Regions from separate parts of the Homo sapiens genome. Here region 2 is reported to be linked to region 1. Evidence: microRNA targets listed by miRTarBase, many of them from high-throughput screens and not tested one by one. Region 1 holds a microRNA gene; the other region holds the end of a gene's coding sequence.

What was found. The annotated mature microRNA hsa-miR-208a-5p reads GAGCUUUUGGCCCGGGUUAUAC and lies in region 1 at 2,457-2,478, opposite strand. An mRNA with a match to its seed (bases 2 to 7 or 8) in the 3' UTR can be bound and repressed. Matches are read on the target gene's strand: a 7mer-m8 pairs with bases 2 to 8, a 7mer-A1 pairs with bases 2 to 7 and ends in A, and an 8mer does both.
Region 2: miRTarBase lists ZSWIM9 as a target of hsa-miR-208a-5p. Seed matches in the 3' UTR shown: 7mer-m8 at 1,882-1,888.

Annotation. Positions count from the first base shown.
Region 1 is chr14:23,386,181-23,392,644 of GRCh38, forward strand. MIR208A (microRNA 208a) reads right to left here and starts at 2,486; the gene lies at 2,416-2,486. It overlaps MYH6 (myosin heavy chain 6), which reads right to left. Exons shown (of 39, transcript NM_002471.4): 25 at 6,382-6,464; 26 at 3,877-4,266; 27 at 3,413-3,539; 28 at 3,213-3,331; 29 at 2,679-2,875; 30 at 1,975-2,158; 31 at 1,578-1,743; 32 at 1,349-1,473; 33 at 135-443. RefSeq lists enhancers at 1-714, 2,764-3,367, 3,368-3,971.
Region 2 is chr19:48,196,237-48,199,236 of GRCh38, reverse strand. ZSWIM9 (zinc finger SWIM-type containing 9) reads right to left here. Exons shown (of 4, transcript NM_199341.4): 4 at 1,617-3,000. The coding sequence ends at 2,410. Among named protein-coding and RNA genes, the nearest start is that of ZSWIM9, 27 kb to the right of the region's middle. RefSeq lists an enhancer at 2,211-2,723.

The sequences.
Region 1 (6,464 bases):
CACTGAGGGCACCTGTCAGAGGTCCCTGCAGTAACCCAGGGGCAGGAGGAATCTGGTGCCTGTATCCAGACACCACTGCTTCTCCAGGCCACATGGAGGCCAGTCCCCTGAGGGGACCTCCCGCCCCCATGTACCTTCAGCAAGCTCTGGAGGCTCTTGACTTGCTTCTGGGCCTCGGCAGCCATGCGGTTGGCGTGGCTGAGCTGGATCTCCATCTCATTGAGGTCTCCTTCCATCTTCTTCTTCACCCTCAGGACCTCGTTGCGGCTGCGTGTCTCTGCATCCAGGGAGGTCTGCAGCGAGTCCACCACCCGCTGGTGGTTGCGCTTGGCCTGTTCCATCTCCTCGTCCTTCTCTGCCAGCTTCCGCTCGATCTCTGCCTTGATCTGGTTGAACTCTAGCTGGGCCCGGAGGATCTTGCCCTCCTCGTGCTCCAGGGAGGCCTGGGAAGGGGTGGGGCGAGGGCGGGCAGACAGGGCACAGGGCAGGGTTGAGAGGGAGGATGAGAAGATACACGGTGTCAGCCAGGACTATCGCCCAGAGAAGAAGAGCTGAGAAGAGATGGGGAGGTGGGATCTGCACCCCATGCCCACCACGGTGCTATTGGGGAGAAAGTGCTGGACTCTCTGGGCTTCCCCTGTCAAGAAAAGGGTTTGGACCTCACAATTGCCAGACCCTCCAGCACTAACACTGCATAAATTCCTGACCTGTCTAAAGTATTATAGAAAATGGAGGAATTTTTATAACCACAAATACAAAATTTTATCTTGTTTTCCAGGTCCCTCACCCTTTCCTGAGAAAAGTTAGAAGCCCAGAAAACTCAGGGCTATTCCCAGGTGCTTAGAAATGAAGAGTAACAATAGCTAATATATATTAAGTGCTTAAATGTGTTACCTCATTTAATCTTTATAATAATCATGTGTAAAATCATATGAGGTATGTACAGTTAATTCCATTTTACAGATGAGAAAACTGAGGCAGAGAGAGATTAAAGATTTTGCCCAACGCTGCAGTGAAAGTCCTCAAGCTGTGTTCCAACTCAGGCCTGTTTGACTCTGGAACCCCACACTCCTACCCACTGTCTAAGTGGTTATTATTATGGCCAGATTCCAACTTTTAAAACCTGGTGGGAAACAAAACCTTTGGCCTCTAATCAGACTGACATTTTCCTTTGTGCAGACCTTGGCTTTGGAGGCAGTCATGGGTAGTGAATAGTGGGTAGATAATGTTGAACAAAGAATATGGAATGAATAGATTTTGTCCTGGGGTCAGGGTCACCCCCAGGTGAGGGAGAAGTGGGAGACAGCGGCAGAACAGGGATGGGGTGCAGGGAGTTCTCGGCCCTCACCTCTGCCTCCTCCAGGGCTGACTGCAGCTCCAGCTTCTCCACCTCCAGCTGTTTGCGGACCTTCTCCAGCTCATGCACATTCTTTCCTCCTTCTCCTAGCTGCTCAGTAAGGTCCGAGATTTCCTCTGGGGACCAGAGGGCCAGAAAGCTCAAAGCCTATGTTCCCCCTGCCCCTGCATGGCCCTCCCTCCCACCAACTCATCTCTGGCCTCTTGGACCCCCAGCACACCCTGAAGGTTCTTGTTCTCCCGCTTGAAGGTCTCTAGGTGCTCCAGGGACTCCTCGTAGGCGTTCTTGAGCTTGAAGAGCTCTGTGCTGAGGGAGCGAGCCTCCTTCTGTGAGGACTCCAGCTCAGACTGCGACTCCTCATACTTCTGCTTCCACTCGGCCAGGATCTGCCCGGGGACAAGGCTCACTCTTCAGCCCCCCAGCCTTAGCTCCCCAGCCCTCCTGCTTCCCAGTGCCCCAGCCCCCAGCCTCAGCCGCATGTCCAAGATCTGTCCCTGGTCCCGAGCCTGGGCTTAGCCCTCCTCCTCCACCTCCAAGGAGGTTGCCTTTGGCCTCTCACTGAACCCCTCATGCCCCCTTGCCCTGCATGCTGGCTGCGGCCCCCGCCCATGGTCCACCTTGTCAAAGTTTCTCTGCTTCTTGTCCAGGGCTGCAGCAGCAGCATTGGAGCGCTCTACGTCCACCATCAAGTCCTCTATCTCATTCTGTAGCCGGTGCTTGGTCTTCTCCAGTGAGGAGCACTTGGCATTAACAGCCTCCACGGCCTCCTCGGCATCCTGCAGCCGCTGGGCCAGCTTCTTTCTGCCCAGGTGAGGGTGGAGGGTGTGTGTGTGACTCTACTGGGCAACACTGGAGCCTTGGGTGGACCTCCTTCCACCCCCTCCCTATATCTCCTTGAGACACCGTAAGTCCAGCCTAGCAGGAGCTGAGCCTGCTCATGCCTGGAACAGAGTCCGCCAGCACGGGCTGCCCAGGCGTCCTCCCTACCTGCAGTGGCATCTGGGTGTCAGTGCCCCCTGCCCTCACCCCCCACACAGGCTGATCGACGGTAGCTCCTCTGACCAACAAGCTTTTTGCTCGTCTTATACGTGAGCATCAGGTATAACCCGGGCCAAAAGCTCGCCCGTCACAGGAAGTGGGTCAGGGCCAGCCAGAGTTCACAGAGCAAAGAGTTCAGGCTTTCTTCCAAGCACTTCTGTTGCCCTCCGAGTTCCTCCTGTCTCTTCCACTTCCGTCTCATGACCACTTTGCCTGTCCCCACCCCAGGTCCTCTCGCCCCTTCCTCTCTGAGAGTCAGGTTAAGGGGGTATCTGGAGCTCACTTGGCCTCTTCGAGCTCCTCAGTCCGCTGAATGGCGTCCGTCTCATACTTGGTCCTCCACTGGGCCACCTCCGAGTTGGCCTTGGACAGGACGCGCTGCAGCTCGGCCTTGGCCTCTGTCTCCTCCTCGTACTGCTCCCGCAGCAGGTCGCAGTCATGCCGGGCCGACTGCAGTGCATGGGCCAGGGCGTTCTTCGCCTGGGGAGGGGGGGGGGCACCAGGAGGTGGGAGGGACTCCCTGTGCCCCATTCTCTAGATTCTCTTCTTATGTAGTACTTCAACCAAGCCCAGCCTTATTCACCATGTGGGCTGATGTGGCACCTCACTGTTTGAGGAGTTTCCCAGTCTGCTCACCCCATCCCCTTACGAATAAGAAAAGAGGCATTAAATGACGCTTAGCTGCAGGGCAGAACCTAGACTGGAGGGTCTTTCCCTTGCAGAGGACTCTTTCCAGCTCCAGGCTCCATTTCTGGCACTGAGATGAATTGCCCCAGGGCTGCCATCAAGCCTGCCCACCCTCCCCACTGGGCCTCACCTTGCCCTCCTCCTCCAGCTGCCTTTTGAGGTCCTCCATTTGCTGGGTATAAGAGAGCTTCCCCCGGGTCAGCTGCGAGATTAGCGCCTCCTTTTCCTCTAGCTGCCGGGCCAACTCTCCTGGAGGTGAAATGAGGGGCTTGTGGGCCATTTCACAAGTCATGTCCTGCCCTAGGCAGGGGGTTGGTTAGGGGCACCCACCATTCTCGGTCTGCAGCTTGGCTCGCTGGGTGGTGAAATCATTGAGGGAGCGTTGGGCCTCTTCTAGCTTCACGCGGTACTCATTGGCCTGGTCCTCCAGCGTCCGAGACACTTTCTCCAGGTTTGCCTTCAGGAAGCAAGACAGGAAGGGTGAGTGTGGGAGGGGCTGAGTCGACCAGAGGAAGGAAGAGAGGGTCAGAGATGGGGAATGCCAGAGGGCAGGAGGGGGACACAGAAGGTGTGGGAGGGCGCAGTCTGAAGAGAGACTTGAATTAAAGAAAGGAGGAACATGAAGAGATAGAGAGGGTGAGGAGAGCCAGAGAGGGGCAGGGGAGACAGGAAGAGAGACCAAAGGGTGATGAAGAGAATGAGAATGACAAGGGAGATGGCAGACAGAGAGAGAAGGCATGGGGGAGGCTCCGCTGTGCAGGGGAGAGGGCGAGGGGAGGCCGAGCAGAGCCTGCCTTGGCCTTGATGATCTGCTCCATGTTGGAGGTGACGTCATCCAGCTCCAGCTTGAACTCGCTCTTCTCCTTCTCCAGCTTCTGCTTCACCCGCTGCAGGTTGTCGATCTGCTCGCCCAGCTCGGCCACGCTGTCGGCGTGCTTCTTGCGCAGGGCCGCGGCAGTGGCCTCGTGCTGCAGCGTGGCCTCCTCCAGGTCCCGCCGCATCTTCTGGAACTCGGCCTCGCGCTTCTTGTTCATCTCGATCTGCACGGACGTGGCCCCGCCGGCCTCTTCCAGCCGCTCGCTGATCTCCTCCAGCTCCCGAGACAGGTCTGAGCGCAGCTTCTCCACCTTAGCCCTGGCGGTGCGCTCGGCCTCCAGCTCCTCCTCCAGCTCCTCGATGCGTGCCTGGGTCAGACACAAAGGGCTCAGACCCACCGCCTGGACCCCTCCACTGGAATCCCCCCGGCTCTGAAAAGCTACCAGGAACTTAGGTTCCTCTCAAGCAGTGGTTCTCAACTAGGGGCAATTTTGTGCCCCAGGGAACAGTTGGCAATGTCTGATTGTCATGTCTTGGTGGGGCTTGCTACTGGCATCTAGAGGGTAGGGGCCAGGGATGCTACTAAACATCCTATAATGCATAGGCCATCAATAGGAATTTGGCTGAAGCTCCCAAGGGCATCTCAGACCCAGTGTGAGCATCTGCAGCCCCAAATCCTGAGAACCTGTGGTTGAAGGGGGATCCTGGTATCCTGTGAGATCAAGAAGTTCAGAGTCCCCAGATTCACTAGGCTCTGTTGCGCTATTCATAAGACGGGAAAATGAGTGCTTGTATTTTACAAATATTTGTGACAACATGCCTCGAAACAATCAGATACCTTTGCAATTCTCCAAGTTAACCACAAAGTCCAATCAACCATATTCCTTGCTCTCCCAGGCTTGCTGTGTTTATGCCCAGGGCTGGGTTTCAACATGATTGCTCCCTTCCAGGCCAGGAAAGTGCTAGCAGGCTACTCTCCTCTTCACCTCATCTCCTTATCCTCTTTAAGTGCCCTTACCTCATTTTTTGGGCCTTAGCCTTGGTCTTGACTAAATTGGGAGAATATCGTATCTACCATTTTGATCTGTTGTCTGGCTAGCCAGGAGCAAAACGGGGGTTCAGTGGAAATCCCTTCACCTCGGGTTATGGACAGCTTTAATGGACTGTTCATGGATGGGTCCTACAAGCAGCAGAGAGGACCACCATGCCTCTGCTCCCAGGATGGAGAAGGTGGGACTTCTGAGCAAGATCTTGGGGATGAAGGAGGAGCCATAGCCTATTGCCGAGAGCTGATGAGACTAACAGGACTGTTATTCTGTGTCCAAGAGGCCAAACAAGTTGCCCAGACCTAGGGTAGAAGAACCTGAGGATGGCCCGATATTCTAGCTAAAACCCAGAAGGGGCATCCAAGAAGATGGGAGGGCAAATTACTAATGAAGGCGGGCCAGTCCCTGTGCAGCCCCAGAGGAGTGGAATTGTGTTCATACATTACTTGCAGCCTGGGCCATGGGCCTCAAGTGCAGAGGGGAGACTACCTCTTTCTACCAGCCACAGTCTGCCCCAAAGTGAGAGGACAAGGTCCCGCCCCAGTAGCCGAGTTCCTGTTGCCCTTGGGGTCACTATGTCCAGACCTGGCCATGTAGCTTCTGTAGCTCTATAATGGGGATGGCAGTGGACTTCCAGGTCTCTTCTGACAAACCCGATACTAAAAGCACATTAGGGTTTGAGGTTCATTAAAGCTAAGGGAGACTATGGCTGTTCACTAAATCTTGAGCTGCAGAGGAATGAGAAGGCCATTGAGAAGACAAAACAATACCTTCTTAGGCTAGTGGCTGGCTGACTTCTCTAAATTGGGCTATATTAATATGATACTTGTATAGAATTTCCTAGTTGACAAAATGGTTTCAAATACATTATCCCCTCTGGTCCTGTGTGGTAGGTATTGTCAGTCTCATTTTACAGGTGAGAAGAGAATCTGAGGATCAGGGAGGGTAAGTGACTTGCTCACAGTTGTTGGAATTGGCTCTTATCATGAGTGCCCTATGGGGACTCAGCCTGGGTTAGTGGCTGGGGTTAGTACCGGGAAGAATATGAACAGAGCAGCTCACAGGAAGGTGCTCCTTGAAGCCTTTTTTTTTTTTCACCCTGCGTTCAGAGGGCTGAACTACCAGAGGAAGGGTTAGAGGAGAATAGAGCTCTATCATTTGTCTTAGAGTAGAAAGTCCCTGAGGCAGAGCAGATCTCAGAAGGAGAAGCCCTTTAGTAGGTATGAGTCCCCCTTCTCAAACAGTTTTGCTAACGTAATGTATTCTTGCTCTATGGGGGAAGGCTAGTGTTCCTGAGCGCCTGTAAGTCAGGGATGGTTGGGTCTATGAGGCTGCCTGGAGTTCCAGATATTGTGTAGAACCCTAAGCAGCTGCTGCAGCCTCAGTTACCTCAGGGCTATTGAGCTCCCACTTTCATGCACTGGGAAAAAAAGTCACCTGGTTTTCCTTCAGTTTCTTCTGTAGTTGAAGGGCCAGCACCTGCTCATCCTCAATCTTACTGTTCTGCTGATTAATGTCAA
Region 2 (3,000 bases), not on the chromosome of region 1:
ATTACAGGTGTGAGCCACCACACCCGGCCTGAATTGTCTTTTATCTCAAGTTCCTTCATTGCTACTCAAAGTGTGCTCCACAACCCAGCACAGCCACATCATCGGAGAGCTTGCTAGAATGTTGGGCCCTATCTTAGACCTACTGAGTCAGACTCTGTATTTTAAGAAGGTGCCCACGTGACTCACGTCCACGCTAAAGTTTGAAAAATGCTGAGCTACTTCAACCTGGACTTTGTCACCTATAATAGAATTAAATCCCCTTCATCAGTTGCGACAACAGAAACCCCAACTCAAACTTCCCTAAATCATTAGGGTATCTTTGATTGGCCAGGTGCAATGGCCCACATCTGTAATTCTAGCACTTTGGGAGGCTGAAGCAGGGGCATCGCTTGAGGCCAGGAGTTTGAGAACAGCCCAAGTAACGTAGCAAGAGACCTCATCTTTACAAAAAGTTAAAAAAAAGAAAAGAAAAGAAAAGAAAAAGAAATTAGCTAGGTGGTAGCACGAGCCTATAGTCCTAGCTACTCAGGAGGCTGAGCTGGAGGATCCCTTGGGCCCAAGAGCTGGAAGGCTGCAGTGAGCTATGTTTGCACCACTGCACTCCAGCCTGGGCCAGAGCGAGACACTGTCTCTAACAAAAAAGGATATATTTTACTTAAGAAGCCCCATGGTAGAGCAGACTCGAGAGACTCAACTGAGCCAAGCAAAGATCCAGATTTTCTTCATCTCAGCTCTGTCATCCTCAGTGTGGACTTCATTATCACACCATACCAAGGTAATCATCAGCAGGTCTAGGCCTGATCATGTCTCTAGGCCTTCTTAGGAGTGATAGAATCTTTATTAGAAGCCTCCTAGGCCGGGCGCAGTGGCTTACGCTTGTGATCCCAGCACTTTAGGAGGCTGAGGCGAGCAGGTCACCTGAGGTCAGGAGTTTGAGACCAGCCTGGCCAACATGGTGAAACCCCGTCTCTACTAAAAATACAAAAATTTGCCAGGTGTGATGGCGCACACCTGTAATCCCAGCTACTCAGGTGACTGAGGTATGAAAATCACTTGAACCTGGGAGGTGGAGGTTGCAGTGAGCCGGGAACGTGCCATTGCATTCCAGCCTGGGTAACAGAGCAAGACTCAAAAAAAAAAAAAAAAAAGCTTCCTAGTTCTGAGCACAGTGGCTCACACCTGTAATCCCAGCACTTTGGGAGGCTGTGGCAGGAGGATTGCTTAAGCCGAGGAGTCCAAGACCAGCCTGAGTAACATAGCAAGACCCTGTTTCTACAAAAATATAAAAATAAAAAAGCCTCCCACCTCAACCTGAGCAGACTCGTTGACCAGGACTGGGTCACAGGCCCATTCTGTGGCCAGGACATTTGGCATGAGTCAGTCATTTGAAGGTAGAATCGACTCATGTCAAGAAGTTGCCACTGGGACGCACTGGTCCAGATGATGGAGGAGGAAGCTTGAGTTGCTATGGAGATGAATTCATTGTGGCTCCTCTATCCATCTGGCCCCAGGAGGCCTTGTCGGTAGAAAGAATGAAGGAACGCTGGACCATCTCAACTGTTCCCTGGATCTGGGACTCCCAACCAACCCCAGAAGCCAAGAACTCATCACGGAAACCAAAATAAGATTGTTTTATTCCAATCCTGAAGAACAATAGTCCAAACAATTCCCCTCCCCTGCTGGAGACTCTCCTGACCCCCAGTGCCCGCCCTCCCTCTCTCTTCAGAAGGCGATGGGGGTCGATGTCTCCAGGTCTTGGAGAAAAACCAAAACCACGCCCCTTGCATTTCGTCTCTACCCGTCTCCCACACATTTCTTTTGTCTCATCTCCGATTTTTCTTCCCCCTCCTACATCCCGTCCCTTCCTCTCCTGCTTCCCCCAGCTTTTCCTCATGTCTTCATTTCTGTCTCTTTGCTTGTCCTCTCTCCTCCATTTCCGGCTCCCCTTTCCATTTTTTCTCGCTTACCTCCTCTCCTTCATCTGTCTTCTGTACTTTCTCCCTTTCCCCTCTCCCCGCTGCACTCCCTAGACTGGCCAGTCTACTCTTGCCAGACACTCCCCATATGATCGCTTCCTCCCCCTCCCCCCAGCTCTGCCCCTTTCCTTCCTTCTGTCCCAGCCTGACCCTGTCTACACCTCTCATCACATGCTTCCTCTCCAGAGGGAAGCCCTCAGAATCCACCCTGCCCATCAACACCTTCCCAAGCTGTGGCTCCAGGACCTCAGAGACCACTTACAGCTTGCCCTTGGACCCAGAGAGGCAAACTGCCATGAGGAGGTCCCTGGATGACCCAGAAGGTGGCCAGGGGGACTGCAACGGTCTCCTTGGCCTCAGCCCTATTATCTTTGGGATCGAAGAATGCCCTCCGACCCTCCTGGTGGAGGGTGGTGGGCAGAGGCATGAAGGGTCAGGGCTCTGGGGCTCTCCCCCAGCAATCCCTGAGCAGGTCCATGTGGAATAAGGCAGCCCCAGTGAGGAGGCGCGCTGCAAAGAGGTGTCTGCAGGGCAGACGGCGGGCGGCGTGAATTGAGCAGCTGCAGCGTGTCAGGGCCCCATCCAGGAAGAAGTCCGAGGTGCCGTCCTTAAGGGCAAAGCCAGCTCCGGTCCAGTGGAAACCCCGGGTCCCATGCTGCCTAGCAAAGGCCAACTCCTCAGCCACCAGGTCTGCCAGCTCTGGCCCGCAGGCTGCTCGGAATTTGGCCAGGGGTTCCCAGTCCACCTCCTCCTCTCCCGGGGGTCGGCAAAGCCTCTTTGGTTCCCTGGGGCCATCTTCGCCTCCTTCCTGCAGGCCGTCACCTGCAGCCAGGTGTTCACTCCTCGCCGCTGCCCATTCTGGGCTGCCTTCCAATACAGTCCCCACCGGGGTGCCAGACACGACTCCATTCCCCAGCCCTAGACACCGCCCTCCTGCGTCTCCCCACTCCATCCCTCGTCCGGCTCGGCTCTTGGGGCCCACGGACCGGGCTCCCCCTCCATCTCCATTCTCCATGCCTGTGAC